2 separate regions of the Homo sapiens genome follow, and region 1 is linked to region 2. The links come from fine-mapping of genetic effects on gene expression. Tissue or cell type: fibroblasts. Region 2 holds a variant in brackets; the other region holds the start of a gene. All regions are shown on one strand. Distances are from middle to middle.

Region 1 (10,882 bases), 230 kb after region 2:
TGTGATTGCTGGATTGAACGGTAAAAATAGGTTTAACTTCGTAAGAAACTGCCAAAGTGTCTTGTCTTCCCTTTGACAGTGTCTTTTGCAGAGTAGAAGTTTTAAATTTTAATAAAGTCTAACTTACCAATTCCTTCTTTCATGGGTGTGCCTTTGGTTTTCCAATTAAAAAGTCATCACTAACCCCAGTGACACCTAGTATTTTGTTTGCTTTTACTTGGTGTTCGTGTCATTGTGATGAGACTACATTTATTTTAGCAGTAGGAGGAAAAAGTTTTGTGCTTCACTACCAGGGATTACTATGATTGTTGTGATACTGTGATTGTTTACTTTTGTGGGAGTTGATGGTGTTTATGTTTTTGCATTAACGTTAAAGAAATCAATTAGCCTTTTTAATAGGGTAACTTTAATTCAGCTTAAATCTGCAAATTTGTGGGATTTTAGACCAAGAAATGGCCTGAAAGAGTGTCTAGTTCAAGTTCATTTTACAAATGAAGGTACAAAGAATGAGGAATATGACATGATTTGCATGAGGTCATACAGTGAATTATTAATGAAGACAGGACTTAGAATTGCTGATAACCATTTTAAAGAACTGAAAGATGTATTGATAATTTTTCTTGTATAATAAATAATTTTGATGATGTGTTTATTTCTTATTCTTTTTGACTTGGTGTTGTGGCTCCTAATTTTTAAAAGGGTAAGTTTTAAAACAGTGAAAAATATAAACAGTTTTTATACTTTTCAAGGAATCTACGATCTAGTGGGAAATATGTCCAGAGACATGGGCTCCAATCAGTGTTGCTCAGTGGAAAGGGACAAACTTTCGGAAACAGGTTCAGAGGATGTAACAGTGCCACCAAATAGAGGCAATTGGGGGCGGGGGTAGGGTGGCCTTCAGCCAAATAGTAAAATACATAGAGATGGGGGAGGTAAGCAGGGGTGGGGTGAGAAGGGTGGGTGCATTTTAAGTAGACAGAAAAGTGAAGCAAAAGTTGAGAGGTGAAGAAAGAGCTTTGTACAGTTGCTGCCAAAGAGGCAAGTGGCCAATTTGGCATGGCCTGCTCCAAGTACCTTTCAGCTGGGGTTACAATGCTAGAATTCGCTTTCTGCCATCATTGGGTCCACTGTTAGGCTAATGGTGTTTGTCTTGTCACAATATAAATACTTTTTTAAAGGCACTAAACATTGTTCTCATAAGGACAGGGTCATTCTTTCCACACTGTTGTCTTCCTCAGTTGACCTCTCTTAGAGCCATTTGCATTCTAAGACTTATCTGACCTCATCAAATTAAGAGCTATGGTCCCCTACTAAAGAAATTTCAAACAGCTGGACAGAATGTTTTTGGACAGAGGAACCATCCACTGAAAGTGCTTGGCCTTGAAAATCTTTATAGGTAACAAATTTGGCTAGGTGACATTTGGGGTTTTTTGTTTTGAGGCAGGGTCTCACTCTGTTACCCAGGCAGGAGTGTAGTAGTGTGATCACTCCTGGGTTCAAACCATCCTCCCACCTCAGCCTCTTGAGTAGCTGGGACTATAGGTGCGTACCACCACATCGGCTAATTTTTGTTATAGAAATGGGGGTCTCACTATGTTGCCAGGGCTGGATGAGATGTTTTCTGAGAAACTGTCACATTGACACCTGTACTTACCACATTTCCTGGACAAATCCTAGCCCACACTCCTCCGGCCCCATTGCCCTCCAGCAAGCAGTTATAATTAAGTTCTACAGGGAACTTAATTATAACTTCCTAAGGGAAGGGGAAGCTGGGTGGAGCGCAGAGCACACACCTAACCCACCCCAAGGTAAATTAAAAGGATATGGTACCACCATATCCTTAAAGCCATAATGGATGGAGGGTGGGAGCAGTGCTGCCAGGCCTCTCCAGCTGTGTAGTGTGCCAACCTAGCCAGACCTCTCCTGGGCCCTGGGTTTGGTCTGAAGACCCTGTGCGGGAAGGCACTGCTCTGCCCTAGGGATAGAAGACTTGGCCTGGGGCTGGGCGTTAGGATACCAGGGTTCCAGTCCCTGCCTTGTCACTCACTTTGTGACCTCGGACAAACACCTCTCTGAGTCTCAGTTTCCTCATGAGGTGTTAGGCCCTAGATATCTACAAAGGCCCTCCCAGCTCTTCATGTTCCATTTTTTTTTTTTTTTTTTTGAGACGGAGTCTCACTCTGTCACTCAGGCTAGAGTGCAGTGGTGCGATCCTGGCTCATTGCAACCTCCACCTCCCAGGTTCAAGTGATTCTCCTGCCTCAGCTTCCCATGTAGCTAGGACTACAGGTGCACGCCACTATGCCTGGCTAATTTTTGTATTTTTAGTAGAGATGGATTTTCACCATGTTGGCCAGGCCAGTCTTGAACTCCTGACCTCAGGTGATCCACCCACCTCAGCCTCCTAAAGTGCTGGGATTACAGTCCTGAGTCACCATGCCCAGCCTTTTTTTTTTTTCTGAGACAGAGTTTTGTTCTGTCGCCCAGGCTGGAGTGCAATGGTGCTATCATGACTCTGCAACCTCTGCCTCCTAGGTTCAAGTGATTCTCCTGCCTCAGTCTCCTGAGTAGCGGGGACTGTAGGTGTGCACCACCATGCCTGGCTAACTTTTGTACTTTTAGTAGAGTTTGGGTTTCACCATGTTGGTGAGGCTGGTCTGGAACTCCTGACCTCAGGTAATCCACCTGCCTTGGCCTCTGCTGGGATTACACGTGTGAACCATTGCGCCCAGCCTTCATGTTCTCATTCAAGTGAATGGTTTGGAGAAGTGAGAGAGGAGCTGTATACAAAAGTCCCCCTTATCCGTGGGGGAACATGTTCCAAGACCCCCAGTGGAGGCCTGAAACCATAGGTAGTACTGAACCATATTGTTTTTTCCTATACATACAAACCTATGATAAAGTTTAATTTATAAATCAAGCACAGTAAGACATTAACAATAAAATAGAACAAGTATAACAATATACTGTAATAAATAGTATGTGAATGTGCTCTCTCTCAAAATATCTTACTGTTCTCTAGATCTTAGCAACCTCAGCATTATTTCCTAAATCAAAAATCTTCACCTTTTCACATAAAGGAACTTTATGGTTTCTCATTGGCATATCCGAATTGTCACATCGCTACCATTGCACTTTAGGGCCTTTGAGAGGGGTCTCACTGTTGTGGAGGCTGGAGTGCAGTGAGGTGATCACAGCTCACTGCTGCCTCAAACTCCTGGGCTCAAGAGATCCTCCCACCTCAGCCTCCTAAGTAGCTGGGACTACAGGCAAGCCACCATGCCCAGCTAATTTTTTTTTAAGAGATGGGGTCTTGCTATGTTGCCCAGGCTGGTCTTAAACTCCTGGCCTCAAGGGGTCCTCCTGCCTCGGCCTCCCAAAGTGATTACAGGTATGAGCCACCACACCTGGCCCACTATTAAATAACATAAGGCTTACTTGAACACAAGCACCGTGATAACTCAATGGTCAATTTGATAACCAAGATGGCTACTAAGTGACTAACAGGAGTAGTTAGTCTGGGAACAGAGTGGAGTCTGAGAAAGAGCAAACTGCCTTTAAAGATTTATGGTGTGAACAAAATGGGCTCTCTCCTCAGGTGACCTAAGGTTTCCCAGGCATTGACTTTTTTTTTTTTTCCTGGAAAAAAAGCAGCAGCTAATTCTGAGTCCTCCCTCCTGAGCCCCTGGTAGAGTGTTCTCTCCATGGAGCCCGGCTCCCCCCTCGGAGCAGGACAAACAGCCCTGAACACCCCTGCCTCCCTGTGGCTGCCGGCTCTGTGGTCCTGGGCAAGGCTGACCTGAGACTTGGGGGACGCCAGAACTGTGTGCCCTCACGATGCTCAGCCACCCATGCTGTTCATCCCCTGCTCCCCACCCAAAGACCTCCACATTTCTCCTACTGTCTCCTTCCAACCTGCTCCTCCTCCTCTCCAGCCAAACCCCTCCACTGTTACCTCCCCCAGTAACTGGCACTTGGCTGAGGACTCAGCTTCCCCACAGCCCTCTCCAGCGCAGGCTATTCACCTTCTCGCACCCTTCAAGGTCAGGATAAGCGGCCTCCTCCCTCCGCAAGGCCATGTCCACACAGTTTCCCCTCCACTCTCATCCCATGCTCACCTTCCTTCTGGTTACTCCCCCGTGTGCAGTGGCATTTTCGCCACCACCACCCTGGGTGGCCTTCCCTTGACCTCATCTCCAAAGACCTTCCCCTCCACTCCATTTCAGCCGCACACTCCCACGGGCAGAACCTCTTCCTGACCCCAGGAATTCAGGTATTGCACGCCCTCCTCATAAGCTCCCACCCTTCCGGCCCAGTGACTCCCATCACGCTGGCACGTGTTCCTCAGCAGGCCTCCACTGTCTCCCTGTCTTACAGCCCCCTTTGGCCTCACCTCTCCCTCTCCCCCTACCTAGCTTGAACTGCAACCTTCTGCACCTCAATCACTCTTCTTCAGCTCTTCAAAGCCACCTTTCGCTTTTCTGAACCCAAACTCTGTAGGGGTCCAACAGCCTTCTTCTGGGTAGACCCCGCACTAGAGAAATGCAAAGCACACAGCCTAAGAGATTGGGGCCTCCGGGTCAGCGGCCCCCCACCTCAGCTGGGCCTTCAACACTGCCATAATCCCTCTGTCCTAGCCCACAGCGCCCCAAGGGAAGGGGAAGCTGGGCGGAGCGCAGTGCACCCACCTAACCCACCCCAATCCTTCCATTCCCTCCGCCTCCTCCAGGGCTTTGAGCCGCATTTCCTGCTCTTCTCGAGTAGGGGTAACCTCTCCCACTGTCAAAACTAAACTAGCTCAAGTCTTTCTCACCTGCAAAATAAACTCTCGAGTGCATCTCTCTCCAGCTACTGCCCCATGTCTTCTCCCCTTCGTGACCAGCTGTCTACACTTCCTGCCTCCATTTCCCCACTTTCTTACTCCCTGGCTCCTGCCCCCACGACACAACTGTTCCCCACAGGGCCACAGGCGGGCATCACTCAGTGTTGACAGGCTGCCCCTCCCTGTGACATAGCCCCCTGCTAGTACGCTCCTATCTCAGTCCCCTCCTCCCATGACCTGAGGCTGGAGCTCCCCCAGGATCTCTCCCAGGCCCTCTGCTCGCCATCAAAGGCGGATGCCTCACAAGCTTACGACTCCAGACAGGCTCACCCAACTGCCTCCTCCACCCAACGCTGCAGCCCACTCAAGGTCCACGTAGTCCAAGCTGCATTCCTTCCTCGCACTCCCTTGCCCTGTGTCCCCTCTTAGCAAATGGCAGCCTCGGCGATCCTGCCCCGAGACAGGCCTGCGCCCAGCGTGGAGATGAACATCAGTATTTGCTGAACGTGTAAACGAATCCTTGACCTTCCCTCATGCTCCACAGCCGGTGAGGATTCCTGTCCATTTTACTGCCTCCTACGTCCCTCGAGTCCTCCCCTCTGCTTCTTTGTTCACCGCGGCCAGCTGCCTCCCCAGACCCGCAACCCCGGCTGGGCCGGGAACCTGCACCGCGGCGCTCGTGCCCCGCTCTGCGACCCCTGCTCCGTGACGGCCGCACTGCACCGGGGTACCGCGGCCCAGCACAGGCGCTGGTCACTAGTACACGAACTAGCTAGGACTACAGGTGCACACCACCACACCTGGCTAATTTTTTATTTTTTGTAGAGATAATGTCTTACTAAGTTACCCAGGCTGGTCTTCTGGGCTCAAGCCATCCTCCTGCCTCGGGCTCCCAAAGTGCAGACATTACAGGCATGACCCACCGTGCACAGCGTCAGCTTTATTTTTTTAATGCTGACTTACTGCAGAAGGCCCAAGGGCCAGTGCAGTTTTCATACTGCTGTTGTAGTGGCGAACGGAGCCACGAGGGAAGGGAGCGCCGCCGGCAGCTGCCGGGACACCAGGATACCACGCGGCCAGCACCGAAACGCTAGGCTCGCGCTCACAACCGCAATCTACACTGAGTAGCCGCGCGCCGAACGGCGTGACTAAGCCCCGCCCACACGGCGCTCCTGGCGGCCAATGGAAATGGCTTACGAGACGCCTTCTCCACGCGCTATACTTATACGGACCAATGGGTGCGCCCTGTGGGGAGTGCCGCCCCCTGTCCACGAGCCTCCTCTTCTCGCCAGCCAATGGAAGCGGTCTGCCTAGCCCTCGCGGGGGCAAGGCGGCGACCGAGGCGCGTGGGTCTGGGAAGGCGCGCGGATTTGGCCCCTCTTCTCACATCAGCGGGTCCAGGCCCAACCGACAGACTATGGGGGCTCCGGCAACCAGGCGCTGCGTGGAGTGGCTGCTGGGCCTCTACTTCCTCAGCCACATCCCCATCACCCTGTTCATGGACCTGCAGGCGGTGCTGCCGCGCGAGCTCTACCCAGTCGAGGTGAGGGGCGCCCCTCTTATCCCGGCCCGCTGAGGCTCTCCCGGCGCTGCGTCCACAGGGCCTTCACCTCCTCCGCGCTCGCGCACTCTGGGTTCCAGTTGCCTCTCTCGGGTCCTGCCCATGCCTCCCCCGCTCCTAACCCAACTTTAGTTCGGTGTTTTCCTCGGGCTTTGTCTCTATCCCAGCCCCTTCTCCCAAGCGGCGGGGGCGAACGCTTTGTTTCCTTTAAAGTCACTTCTTCCCTGGGTTTAAGGTTTCCCGCGATTCCACCTCTGGCCGGTTGTCAGTGTCTGAGGGAAGTAGTCTGGATGAAGTGGTGTCCAAAGTCACATGTTAGGTTTGCTTTAAGCTTCTGGTTTTTTGTTTGTTTGTTTGGAAGGGCTTTAAAATACCAGTCTGATCCCAAAGAAAAAATCCGAGTAGAAATAGACCTGTCTGAAGGTTTAGCACCTTGGTTGGTGCAGCTGGGGCGTTCACAGATCGTCACTGCTTCGAGATCAGGTTCCAGCAACTTCCAGAGCTCAGGAGTAAATTGCCATCTTTTCAGATTGGCTCTTCAATATTGGGTTCGAGTAACAATGATCTCCTGAGTAAAAATAAAGGTGAAAATCCCGATTTCCTGGTTGTTGGAGAGCATTCTTTCAACCCCAAACTCTGCTTTAATGCTTTGTTTTTTTCTTCAAAGCTATAGTTTTAGTTTCCCGGTTCGTTGAGGTTTTTTTCTCGTATCTGGACCCTGTGACCTTCTTCCATGGAATTCCTGTCCTCAGTTTTGTTTCTCCATCTTATCTATAACTGTAGGCAGGACTGACTTGTCTACCCGAAGATTTTATTTTGCGTCTGTTTTTCCTTAAATGCTTTTTATCTGCCGAGGAGGGGTTCTTTACCTGAGGGTCATGAACTCCCAAAAATGGGTGCAAGTGTGTGTGCCTTTTGTTTCCTGCAAGGAGAATATAGCTTCCATCGACTTTTCAAGGGGCCTAACTCTCCCAAAAAGGCCACGGCTCAAGAATGTTCTACCACTCCCATAAGTCACTCTTTTTTGTTTGCTTCTAGAACCAAACACAACTGGAAGACCTCTGACCTCCTTTTGCATGGGAAAAGCGTAGGTAGCGTGTAGCAAGTTGCAGTCTGGGGACTTGGTTCTTCCAAGAACTGGAGGTGACTTGGGCAGGTCAGGGCTCTATATCCTCCTCAACTGTTGAGAGAGTTGAGTTAAATTATAAGCTCAAACATATACAGGGTGGGTTAGTTTTCATATTGCTGTTGTAGTTACCACAAATGTAGTGATTTAACAGATTTATTTGTTTACAGTTCTGGAGGCCAGAAGTTCACAATGAAATCTTACAGTGCTCAAATCAAGGCAGGGCTCACTCCTTCTGAGGGCTCCAGGGGAGAATCTGGTTCTTGCCTCTTCCATTTTCTGGTGGCTGCCAATGTTCCTTGGCTTGTGTTCACGTCACTTCAATCTCTGCTTCGGGTCATCACATTGCCTCCCTTTCTGTAGTCAGAGTTCCCTCTGCTTCGCTTTTATAAAGACACTTGTCATACATTCAGGGCCCACCAGATAACCCAGAAAATCTCCCATTTCAAAATCCTTAATTACATCTGCAAAGTCCCTTTTGCCAAATAAAGTAATAGTCACAGGTTCCAGGGATTAGGATGTGGTTATCTTTGGGGGCCATTATTCAGCCTACTACAGGGCCAGAGAGTACAGACTCTTCCCAAAGACCGAAGAGGTCATCGCAGCTCTGCAGTAACCATTAATTGCCCTGAAGAAAGGAAAATCTACTACAGTGTTGGCCTATCTGTGGTTTTTGAAACCTGTGTGGCCAGCAATACTCAGACAGGCTGCCTGTTTACAATCTCTGGTGTTATAGGACCTTTTAATACTTGGTAATTAGCCTGCTACTCCATGTAGCCATTCCAGACTTCACAGCTGTTGTCTTCTTTATCCTTCCTGGATGTGCCATTCTCACAAGCCCGTCTTGCTCACCCCTAACAAAATACACTTAAAAGGTGCTCAGCATCATATCATAAAGATCCCATTTAAATGTTTACATTTGATAAAATTTTCTCAGTCTTTTTTTTAGAAACAGGGTCCTTTGTCACCCAGGCTTGGCGTGCTGTGATGCAGTCATGGCTTACCACAGCCTTGAACCTGAGCACAAGAGATCCTCCCACCTGTCTCCTGAGTAGCTAGGACTATAGGTGCACACCACCACACCTGGCTAATTTTTTATTTTTTGTAGAGATGATGTCTTACTGTGTTACCCAGGCTGGTCTTCTGGGCTCAAGCCATCCTCCTGCCTCGGGCTCCCAAAGTGCTGAGATTACAGGTGTGACCCACCGTGCCCAGCGTCAGCTTTATTTTTTTAATGCTGACTTACTGCAGAAGGCCCAAGGGCCAGTGCAGGCAGCATCTGGCCAGAACCTGTGTGTGTGTGTGTGTGTGTGTGTGTGTGTGTGTGTGTGTGTTTGTGTGAGATTTAGGCATTAGCACGGGCATCCTGGGTGTGTGTGTATCTGTGTGTGTGATGATGTTTGAAGGCATTAGCTCGGTGGCATCCTGGCATGGAAGGTCTGTGCCTCCATTCTTGTTGCTTTGGTGTAGGAAATGCTGATTTTGTTGCTTCTCTATGGGGCAAATAATAATAAACGCCTTGAGTTATTCTCATATTCTCTTTGAAAAATGCCAAAATTTAACATCTGTCATTTTCTTCCTGAAATAGAAGGAATGTTTCCCTAGAGTTAAAAAACCTGTAGGAGATCACCTAGTGGTTGGGCTGAAACATGCACAATAAATTTTTTTTCTTGGATTGCACCAAATCACTGCTTGGAAAAACTCATTTTTTTATTTACTTTTTGTTTTTCTTTCTTTTTTTTTTTTGATTTTGTTTTTGAGACAGTCTCTTGTCGCCCAGGCTGTAGTGCAGTGGTGCAATCTCGGCTCACTGCAACCTCTGCCTCTCGGGTTCAAGCAATTCTCCTGCCTCAGCATCCCAAATAGCTGGGATTACAGGTGCTTGCCACAACGCCTGGCTAATTTTTATATTTTGTTATAGATGGTGTTTCACCATGTTGGCCAGGCTGGTCTCAAACTCCTGACCTCAAGCGATCTGCATGCCTCAGCCTCCCAAAGTGCTGGGATTACAGGTGTGAACCACCACGCCTGGCCTGGAAAAACTCTTATTTTATTATGAAACAGTAAGAATTTAGTTTGGATAAGAACATGGTAAGGAGAGGATGGGAAGCATTTTGTAGTATCATTTGCAGCTGGGTAACATTGCTTCTGGTAAAAATAAGGAAAAACAAGTGAGCATCTGGCTCTGAAATCAGTCTGTGTTCCCATTCTAAATTATAGAAGTACAAGATTGGTGAGTAGCAACCACTGGTTTAGAGATCGTGCGTGCAGGCCAGGTGAATCTTTTATGTATAACAAGGGTGGGTTGAGTCAAATAGAGTCAGGTATAAGTGGAAACAGTTTCATTACCTTTGGTAGGGAGGCCATAACTAATAATTTTTAATGACCAGTCGTGAGCTGCGATTTTAATGGGATTAAACTTGAATATCTCCAAATATGTATTAATTACATTCAATTAATCATTATGTGCTAGCCATTATTTTAAAGACTACATGTATTAAGTCACTCTCTTACCAATAGTGAAGTAGGCACTATTACTGGCTCTATTTTATTGATGGGGACACAAGTGTAGGGAGATTAAAGGCCTTGCCTAAAGCCAGGCACTCTACCCCAGGTCCTACACGCCTCACCCATCTGCCAGGTGCCTGGGCTTTCTACTCTCCTACTCACAATTAGTCCCAGCCTCATTCTGGCATCAGGTGGCAGGTATATGACTGTGGGCAGATGGTTGGTTACGATTATGATAATTCATTATTACGACATCTGGGTGATTGTTTTTTAAATTTTGCTGATCTCATCTTGTAGGCCTTAGAAATTAAAGTGCTGTACAAGTCTGCCTCAGTTTATGAAATAGTTGGATCAGAGAGGTTGTAAACAAATTGAATAGAAAGTGAAGTTCAAATGGCCAGAATGCCTTTTTTTTTTTTTAATTTTTTTTTGAGATGGAGTCTCGCTCTGTCACCCAGGCCGGAGTGCAGTGGCTCGATCTCGGCTCACTGCAACCTCAGCCTCCAGAGTTGCTAGGATTACAGGCGTGAGCCACCACACCCAGCTAATTTTTGTATTTTTAGTAGAGACGAGGTTTCACCATGTTGGCCAGGCTGGTCTCAAACTCCTGACCTCAGGTGATCCACCCGCCTTGACCTCCCAAAGTGCTGGGATTATAGGCATGAGCCACCGGGCCTGGCCCAGAATGCCTCTTAAATTTTGCAGTCAGGCCGGGTGCAGTGGCTCACACCTGTAATCCCAGCACTTTGGGAGGCTGAAGCGAGGATCGCTTGTGCCCAGGAGTTCGAAACCAGCCTGGGCAATGTGGCAAAACCCCGTCTCTACAGAAAATTAGCTGGGCTTGGTGGCGCATACCTGTAGTCCC
Region 2 (10,882 bases):
TATAGCTTAATATGGTGAATGAGGTCACCAAAGGAGGAAAGGCTAGAGAAATAAAAAGGTTGAACTTTGAGAATGTCAGCATCTAGGGAGTGGTTCCCTCTCTTATTTTTCCCCTTGGAATTTAATTTTGAGGAATTCAGGTGGCTTTGTCTTAGAGTTTATCACAATCTGTATGTTACTGGTTGCATCCATGTAGTATATAGCATGTTATTCTGCTCTCTTTTCTGTTCATTGGTAGTTTAATCTGGAGACTTGATCACATTCATGTTTCTGTTTATTTGCTTGTTTGTTTTTTGATGGGTGGCTATGACTACTTCATTAGATAGTACAAGTGATCTGTACTTAATCAGGAGGCACATAATATTGGATCATCTCTGCTTTTTCATATTATAGACATTGATGATTAATACCTAGATCCATTAATTTGTTAAGGTTTGCAAAATGGTAATAATCTAATTCTACCAGGTCTTCTGTATTTGTTAGCTGAAATAGTTCTATAAAGTGAAACTTCATTTTCTATTTGATTACTTGTTGGTAGGTACGGTTTCTATAAATGATGGGATAAATGCATAATTTGTTTGCTTTATTCATTTTCAAAATAATGAATTGATCCATTAGCATCCTCTAACAGTAACCAGTTAATTAACTTATGGATTTAAGTTATATTTCATATAGAAAAATATTTCTTAGTTTCAAATAGAAAAATATTTGATATTTTTATTTCACTGAAATCATTGTCTTTATTGGTATGCAAGTTGTTATTTTGGTCACTGGGCTCCTGAGTCCTTTTGACATAACCCTAGTTGTCTAGATTTGACAACATGTTCCAGGCTCATCTGTACATTTTCTAACCCAGATCTGGAATCAGCCATTTCTCCAAGGTTCCCTTGGCACTAGAGGTACTCATCGCTTGGGTTTGTCATTGTTTCTAGGCTTTTTTTAGTGGGCATATCTTTAAGATAAAATGATACCAGGAGTTCATACTGATACTTCAAATTCAAATGATTAAAATTCTGGTCTTGAATCTCCTTTTTCCCATACAAAGTATTGGTTCCCTTGGTTTTCAGTGGTGCCAGAAATGATAGAATTAGAACTTCACATAAGTATTCATTTGTTCACCTCACAGTGCATACACAGTACTCAGAATACCAGCACCAACAATATGATTAATGAAAACAGGTTTAGATGATGTAAAGAACTTTGTTAAAATCATATGGTTTGGTAAGTTTGATGTACGTATACACATGAAACTATTGCCTCAGTCAAGATTCTGAACATATTCATCACCACAAATTCCTCTACCCCTTTGTAATATTTTCTTTCCCCACCTTTCTCTTCCCACTGCCATCTGTAGGCTTTTTGTCACTATAGATTAGTTTTCATTTCCTAGATTTTTATGTAAATAGAATCATATAAAATGAACTCTTTTTCATCTGGCTTCTTTCACGCAGCTTATTTATTTTGAGATCTATCCATGTTGTTGCATGAATTAATAGTTCATTCCTTTTTTATTGCTTAGTAGTAATCTATTGTAGAGATATACTATAGTTTTGTTGTTTTTTTTTTTCATTCACTTACTGATGAACATTTGAGTTATTTCTAGTTTAGGGCTATTAGAAACAAAACTCCTTGGACATTCATATATAAGTCTTTGCATGGACATATGCCTTCATTTCACCTGGAATGAAATGGCTGGATAATAAGCTAGGTGTATGCATAATTTTTTTAAGTTAAATTGTTTTCCCAAATGGTTTTACCACCTCACATTTCCACCAATAGTGTGTGAGTTCCAGTACCTCCGTATCACTGCTGTTACTTAGTATGGTTAGTTTTTTAAATTTTAGATATTTTAATGTGTGTGTAGTGTTACTTGTGGTTATAATTTGCATTTTGCTAATGACTAGTGATCTGCCATCCTTATGTCTTCTTTGCTGAATTATCTGTTCAAATCTTCTCTCTACTTTTAAAAAAAATTGTGTGTGTATTTTTTTTATTGAGCTTTGAGGGTTTTCTAATGCTGAATACAAATCCTTTATCAGCAACATCATTTGCAAATAAGTACTCCCAGTTTGTGGCTTGTGTTTTTGTCTTTGTAACAGTGTCTTTTGAAGAGCAGAAGTTTCTAATTTTAATGACTTCCAGTTTATCAGAATTTTAAATGAATCATGCATGTTTATCTTTCTTGTTGGCTTTTTAGTTGTAACTGTTTGCTATATTATTTTAATGATTGGCTTTAAGTATATGGTATACATCTTTAACCTATCACAGTATACCTTCAATTGGTATTATACTATTTTATGCATAGCATAGTAGTCTATATCCATTTCTCACCTTCCAGCCTTTGGGCTACTGCTGTCATACATTTCACTCTTACATATGTTTTAAGCCCCACACTACATTGTTATTTTGCTTTAAACAGTTGTCTTTTAAGGAGATTTAAATAATACCAAAAGTCTTTATATTTACCTGTGTGGTTGTTGTTTCCTGTGCTTGTTATTATTTTCCATGCTCTTCATTTCTTTGTAGATACCCAGTTTTTCATCTGTTAGTCATTTTACTTCCTTTATGACTACTTATAGTGCAAGTCTGCTGGTGATAAATTATTTTAATTTTTTTTTAATGTCTGAAAAAGTCTTTATAGCATCTCCATTTTTGAAAGGTTTTTTTAGCCACGTGGTAGCTCACACCTGTAATCCCAACACTTTGGGAGGCCGAGAGGTGGGAGGATCGCTTGAGGCCAGGAATTTGAGATCTCCTGGTGGGAGCTTGTTAAAAACATAGCGGGAGCTTGTTAAAAAATAATAATAATAATGAAAGTTATTTTTGCTGGGTATGCAATTTTAGGGTGACTTCCTTTAAGTACTTCAAAGATGTTACTCTGTTATTTTCTGGGTTGTATTGTTTTCAATGAGAAATATGCTATAATCCTTATCTTTGTTCCTCTGTGTGTAATATGTCTTTTTTTCCTCTGGCAGCTTTAAAGATTTTTCTCTTTATCAGTGGTTTTGAGCAATTTGATTGTGATGTCTAAATGTAATTTTCTTCATGTTTCTTCTTGGGATTCAGTGAGTTTCTTGGATCTGTGGGCTTATATTCATATAGTGGAATACTATATATATGAAATAAATGTACTAGATCTAGATATATTAACATGGATCAATTTTATTTCATTTTATTTATTTACTCGTCACTGACTTGAAGCACATCAACATGGATAAATTGTAAAAACAAGGCTGATTTGGGAGAAAGCAAGTTATATATAAAAGCTTAGGCCAGTGTGAGCCATTTATGTAAATTTTAAAAACATAAAACAACCATATTTTTATGGCTACAGTCATATGTATCAAAAGTTAAAGTGTGAGTATCAAGGATTCATACCAGAGCCAGAATAATGGTAAACTGGGACAGATTCAGTTAAAGATGCAGTCTTTGGATGCATCTGTAGTAGCATTATGTCTTAATAAAATGTATCTGAAGCAGATGTGGTAAACACTTTTATCTGGGCAATGAGTACACAGCGTTTAATTTCTACATTTACACACATGTCTAAAATATATAATTATATTTATATATATATATATACACACACACATATATAAAATCATTGATATGAAAAAGGTCAATACAGTTCTTATAGCTTCTGTTGCTTCACTTTATTAGATATAAAATAACCCCCTTCCACATAGTTAACATTTCAGTAATCTACCAAATAAAAGTTATTCCCAGAGATGTAAGACCTGTTTCTTTAGAATGTCATGACCAGAATTTCCATAGTAATCTCTAAAACGACACTCCAGTGAGACAGTCTGATCTGTGGGTCATTTCCTTTCCTGTTAAGAGACCTTTGTTAATTCCATTTTGCAGTATCCCAGAAGAAACATTGCAGGTGTGCAACCAATCCAACTGAAACAGATAATACTGGGTAATGTTCCCTTCTTACTCTTCCTTTTTATTAATGCACTTATTACCCATCTTCCAAAATAAAAAGTCTTTGTCATACTGGCATCTGATTTTTTTTTCTTTTGACAACCAGCCTGTCTTCTGTCTCCTGAATTTTATTTTAACATCTTTTAATATGTTGCCAGGTAGGCACCCCTAGTTGAACAAGAAAGACCTGGAAATCATTAGAGCTAACAATATACAGGTTTTTCTTAAATGTGCTGCCAAAGGGCATAACCTCTTTGGATTGGTGACATGTAGCACTTGCACAGCAGCTTTTCTTCCCATTTCTAATGGTAAGAAGTAAAATAGCCTTCTGTCAGGACCAACTTTTCTTTGGACACATGCTTCTAATCTTAATGCATTAAGACTGGTGTGTTGCTCAGAGCTTTTTTTAAAGAAACCAAAGAAAAGGCGGGGGGGTGGGGGGAGAAGGAAAGGTAAGGAAAGCCTACTCAGCATTTTCATTTGTCTTCCAAAAAGAATTTACATTGAAATGTAACAGCAGTTTCAGAAAACTTGTGGATGTACACATTTCTTTACAGCAAATGGAAACAAATTTAGAACATTTACTTAATAGGTGGGAGCTCTTCCATTTTGGTGATACTTATTTTTCTCTTTGGAGGAAGCCATAGTTTGTGAGGGAATTTTTTTGTTCCCATTAACTATATAAATATTTTAGAATGGTCTTTTAGGATTTATCTTTCCTGTCTTAAAGCTGTTCCACCCTCAGGCTCAGTCAACTGTGTAACTGTTTGTTTTCTAACCAGAGTTAAGTTAGTAAAGCCCTCCCCTTCAACAGTCACCTATAGCGTAACAAGTTCGGGGAGATAATAGTCAAACAAAACAGACTGTATCCTGCCTCGAAGTAGAAAGAGCTAAGCAACTAAGTGGCTTGTTTTTATTTTATTTTATTTTATTTTATTTTATTTTATTTTATTTTATTTTATTTTATTTTATTTATTTATTGAGACAGAGTCTCACTTGCCCAGGCTGGAGTGCAGTGGCGCAATCTTGGCTCACTGCAACATCCGCCTCCCGGGTTCAAACAATGCTCCAGTCTCAGCCTCCCGAGTAGCTGGGACTACAGGCATGTGCCACCAAGCCCAGCTAATTTTTGTATTTTAGTAGAGACGGGGTTTCACCACATTAACCAGGATGGTCTCGATCTCCTGACCTCCTGATCCACCCACCTTGGCCCCCCAAAGTGCT[G/A]GGATTACAGGCGTGAACCACCGCACCCGGCCTAGTGGCTTGTTTTTTTGTTATATTTTTAAAGTTTTCCTAAACCAGTTTTCTGAGACTAAGAGTAACTTCATTAGTTGGGAGGGGAGTTGCAGGGAGGAGGGGATATGCATTAACAAAACAAAGGGCTTTCCTTTCTTTGAAATATTCTCATGACCAGATGCTGGAAAAATATACAATAGATTTCTTAAATATAATTCTAGCTCTGAAGTATATACATACTTAATGAAACCAAAATTGAATGCTCCTAAAGTAGGCTGATCTATATATAATAGCATTTCCAAAAGTAGACCTTTTGTGGGCGATCTCCATTAACTCTCCCTCGGTATCTTAACTACATATTCCCCTTACTCCATAGGCATTCCAAGAGGAGTAATTTATAATAAAAAAAATTCTGTGAAATGTGATGGTCATCAAAGGGTTCCTTGGAAGGTATGGTGGGAAAGCTTTGTAATTGCTGCTTCACAGAACTTGAGTTGAGGGAGAGCAGTCTGGTATAGTGAAAAGAACATACACTGTAGAGTCCAAAAGACTTTAATCCAATCCCAGTTCTGCCCCTTATTCTTAGGACGGAAGCAATCTGACATCAACTCTCAAACTACTTGGGAGTTGTACGTAACACGTGGCAAGTTCGTTAACTTCTCTGTGCATTAGTTTCCCTGTTTGAAAAATGAAGATAACAATTCTTCCCATGAAAATTGCACACCAAAGACTCACCATATATTTCATTTGTTCACCTCATTTATTTGTGTTTTACTGGACTAATGGTTTCTGCTATTGTTAATAATTAATGAACATTGTGTCAGGACTTATTCTGTTGTCAGACTGCCTTAGGATATGATCTGCATTATAACATTAGAATTTCAATCCAACATCTCTAGAAAGAGTATGACAAAAGATTGCAAAAAAATGACTATTATTTAATAGGGTAGCAGAAAGAAGCTGTAACATTTTTACTAGAATATGATTAATTCACAGATGCTGACAAAAGCCATTATATTCTCATCAGATGATACTTAATAACTTGTGGACAAATAAGATGACTTGTTTTTATTCATGAGAGATTATATTAAGCTCTCTAGAAAAGCTGTAATTCTTCAGAACGTCCTAGAATTTACTGTATAGGGAATGGTTAGATTCTTCAGGTTTCTGAGCAAAAACAACCCCCAAAACAAAACCAAATTACCCACGTAGTTTGAGAGATGATGTCAGATTGCTTTTGTCTTAAGAACCTACAAGCAAGAACACATTTCAATAAGGCTGCCTTTCTCTTTTACACCTTTGAAATTACTGCCATGGATATATTTACTAGTAGTGCATTATTAACCCAGCTATGGCCACTTGCCTTTTGCTGACCGAGTTCAAAGCTTATGTACCAGAGAGGAAGGTAGTATTGGGAGGGGAGTTCTTGACAAAGGAGCTACTGATTTGCATTTATGGTAATACGTAATGTAAAGTCAGTCATCAAAAGATTAAGTATCTGAAAAGGATTATTTCAAACATTGCCATCCCTAGGGGTTTGCTGTTGAGGCAAATTACATTATTTATAGTCTTTGAGGTGGGTGGGTGGTGGGGAGGAGAGACAAAAGCTAATATTTTTATACAGGTGAAAATAAGCATCTGGTAAAGGGAGGTATAAGAGTTGGAATTCTTGGATTACAAAAGTTCAACTTATATTAGCTAAAAAGTGGGTATGTTGCCTCACATAACCAGGCTTCAAGATGGATAGAGTAGAACTAGCCTTTGATAGTGCAAGACTTGAATATTGTCAAGACTCTTGTCTCCTTTCTCTGACTTTCTCTGCAAATTTGTGTTTATTTTTTAAATTGTTTTCTCCACAGGGCAGAGGTAGTTCTCAGTCCACATATTTGCAGCTCTTCTTTAACCAAAGAGGAAAGGGACCTGACCTAGCTCCAGTTTTCATGATATCTAAGTCTTTTTTGGTGGTGGAGAATGTAGTCTCCTTACCAGAATAAAATTAGAAGGAAAAATTGGGAAGATACAAATAATTGCCACCTCAAGTGGAAGTCATTACTGTGAGTGCTAGAAAAGGATTGTCCTCATGGGGAAAGAGACCATGAGTTATACATGGTGCTAGCAAATGTTACATGATACTATTGTTGCTGCCTTTCTGTGCTAGTCCTCCTGCTTTATCCCCATATTTCCCCTCTGTAGTGCAGTACCCCCTCAAGCTGGGAGGGTAGTCAACTTGGACAGCGGCCTGGACCCTAGGGAAGAGTTTGCTGAAAAGTCTACATGGCCATGTTATCAGATTCGTTCCATTCCTAATTCAGATTAACAGCTTCTACATGTGATGGAATTGTATTACTTTCTAAAAAAAATTTCAGACTGTAACTCAACATAGTTGTGGAAGAAATTCAGAGCTTGTGGGAAAAGATGCATCTCTCTATCCAAGTCTCACTTCTAGAGGCAAGGATTCTACTACTCAGGATTGTAGTATGATTGTACACTTTAATCTTCAAGGACTTTATTATAAAGCAAGGTGCCAATATTATTACTGATGCAGATTATCCTATGATTCCAGATTTCTGCAATTACAATATATATATTTGAAATGATTATTCCATTAAGCAACCCACTTGCCCCTTGCTGTGACCCTTGCTATGGTGTAACTTTTAATGTTTCTGGTTTTACAAAAGAAAATCTGCATCAATCCTTAAAGTTACATTTAAAATTTACATTAACAGTACAACCAGATGGCATTCTGACACTCACTGTAAGTATTCTAGGATTTTTCTAAAATAGCTGGCTCAAATAGAAAAGTCATCTTTTTCCCAAGTGTGTTCCTGTCCTTTTCTCTTGTTGTGTGTTCTAACTGTTGCACTTATATTAAAATCATAAAACCAGAATGGAGAATTTATTCCAAAAGTTCCCATGCATTTCTCCAATCTTACTTCCTGTTGCAAGGACCCACCATCACAAATGAAGTGTAATTGTACATTCATGATGACGTCTTGCTTATTAAATGGTGACATTCAAGAAATTGTCAGCACAGGCATTCTTTTATAGGTCAAGGATATACTTATTTTGAAAACGTTGAAAAATAATAGTAATTATTTAACTGATTTCAGAAGAATCTATTTCAGTGGCATCCTGGACTTTCTACTGACTCACTAAAAATAGGGATTTTTGAAGAGGATGACAAAATTCATAAGTCCTTGATTCTACTATGTAAAATTATAATTTTACACAAGAAAAAGTACAATGTGGTTTACTTTTAGCCTAGTTTACCATAGTTAAGCCAAGAAAATGTAAGCTAACCAAAAGCTTGCAGAATTGTCGTTATTGTGACTCAGTGGTATAGACTTGAGTTTTCAAAAATGAAGTGTTCTTGTAATTTTTTTTATCCTCCTACAATATAGTCTCAGATATCTAGTCCTAAGGGGCTATAATTGAAGGAATATTGAAGGAGGAGAAAATGTCTGTCAACAATTTGCATTTGGTTGGAGAAGATTATGGGAACTTTAATATTGGAATCCTGACACCTGGGCATCAAAAGGGAAACTTTCAATGGGTCATTGCTGTAAATTAATCAAAGCCCTTGTGCATATTGAAGACACTTCTCTAGTTTCCCACTCCCCCATCTATTTCCAAACAGCAGAGAGAACAGGAAAAAGAATTTTTCAACATCTTAATTTTCTTCAATAAATAAGTCCCTAATAAAAATCTACTGTTACAAATCACTGGTGTCAGAGAAACAGTTTAAGAAGAAATCCCTTACTACTGGCAGATAGAGAATTGCTTCCTTTCTGCTCGAAAATAAGAGGTGTATTCTTCTTCCAGTAGTTGCCTTGTAGCATGCATAAGTGGGACACTGAAGGGTCTAAACAGTGATAGGATGGAGCCTTTCCCTTGTTTTCATGCTTTGTGTTATCCAGCTGTGTCATTTATGTTACAGTACAACATCCCATCACCACCACCTCTAGCCAGACTTAATGAGAGTAAGTTTTATTCTTTTTCCATCTAATGAAACTTTGCTTGAGCCATTTGCTTATATTTCAGTTTTGTTTGGGATATAACTTAAAAATGAGACACCAAGGTACAAGATGCATATTATAAGTTATTTTTATTGTATAACCTCTGAAGGCAACATTAAAAAATGTTCAAATAACAAAATACTTACTTTTTGATTATAGAAATTTTTAAATTATACTAATGTTATTAAGAATTGGCCATGCTTCTAACTGTAATTGTTACTTTTATTAAGAAGGTTTAATAAATGAGTTTCATTTCTTGTGTGGATATCTGTATTTAACTTGGTTTCTTTGACTTGGCATTATACAAGTAAAATTCAAATTTCCTTTTTCTGCAGTCAAACTTACATATATTTATTCTCTTCTTTGAATTACATAATGCTGAGTTGCAGGAAAAATTGGTTAGGCATGGTCCTTGTGAACCCAAGTTGTATTTCAGTTTTATAAATAAATTATCCTTACTCAGTTTGAATATCTGAACCTAGTTGGATTGGGAAACGTTATTTTAAAGCAGGCACAATAAATTATTTACCCTAAATAATTTAAAGTATATTGCTTTTTTTCTGTTTGAAATTACCTATAGTTGTTATAGTAGTATAAGGCATCTTACCTACTGTTGATATGATTATAATGACAGATACTTGTACATTTTCAGTGTCTTCAATTAAGATGATTGACTCTAAGTTTTAGCAACTAGGAAACCATTGAGGATATATCACTTTTCAGTTGTGATTCCTGCCTTTGTTAGTCTCCTTGACAAATTGAATTTCCATTTTACGTTACAGTGTGGGTTTAAATTCACCAAGCTTTAATAAGGATCCTGTTCCTTTTCATTTTTTTCTTTAAGTGAATGTTTACAGGGTAACCTAGTTGACAAAAGTTTGTTTCTTGGCACTTTGCATTTGCCACTTCTGTAATTTTTTAAGGTGTCGACTGGTTATTAATAGATTAATCTTCCTTAGAACTACAAATAACCAGATCCAGCACTGTGCCCTTTTCTTTTTATAGATAAGGGAACTGAGACCCAGATAATATAAACCTACGAAGTGTACACTAGAACCTTCTGTTACTTCTTTATCTACCACAGGGCAAACTGTAAGTAAACAATTAAAATAACTGATTCAATTTGTGAATCAGCTCTCTTGAAATGATATAGTTGCTCATGTTAGATCTTTTGTGATAACAATGATTGAAGTCCAAAGGTAATTGTTTAAAAAATTGTCATAAGAATTAGGCAGAACGGGTAGCCTCATATACCCAAGGTGGAGTAAAAGAGAGTAGAAATTATGAATTATTTTTCTTCTAATAATAGAAATCTGTTATGATAGTTATTACTCACTTATTTGTACTATAACTCTTCCAAGTAGAAAGTAAACATTTTTGTCAAAGGTACCAGCATAAAATTCAGGAAAGGGGAAGAAAACTGACATTGAGTACGTCTTTATTCATCAATAAGGGTGCATGTATATTATTGGCCACATCATTTTAATTGGATGGATATTTCATTATTTAACCAATCACCTATTGTTGGGCATACAAGTTTTTTCCCAGTTATTTTTCACAACTATGAAAAGTTTTTCATTACCATTCTTTTTTTTTTTTTTTTTTTTTTTTGAGATGGATTTTTGCTCTTGTTGCCCAGGCTGGAGTGCAATGGCGCCATCTCGGCTCACCACACCCTCCGCCTCCCGGGTTCAAGTGATTTT

Evidence for each region. PIP is the estimated chance that this variant, and not a neighbour inherited with it, causes the effect.
Region 1: it holds the start of TMEM97, and the variant in region 2 is the best candidate, but not a certain one, in a credible set for the expression of TMEM97 in fibroblasts (GTEx, PIP 0.53).

The regions. Positions count from the first base shown.
Region 1 is chr17:28,313,001-28,323,882 of GRCh38, forward strand. TMEM97 (transmembrane protein 97) reads left to right here and starts at 6,200. Exons shown (of 3, transcript NM_014573.3): 1 at 6,200-6,365. The coding sequence starts at 6,240. RefSeq lists enhancers at 4,479-5,304, 5,524-5,783, 6,264-6,323.
Region 2 is chr17:28,087,910-28,098,791 of GRCh38, forward strand. The region is part of intron 1 of NLK (nemo like kinase); the gene reads left to right. Among named protein-coding and RNA genes, the nearest start is that of NLK, 51 kb to the left of the region's middle. The variant G/A (reference allele first, on the strand shown) is at 5,152.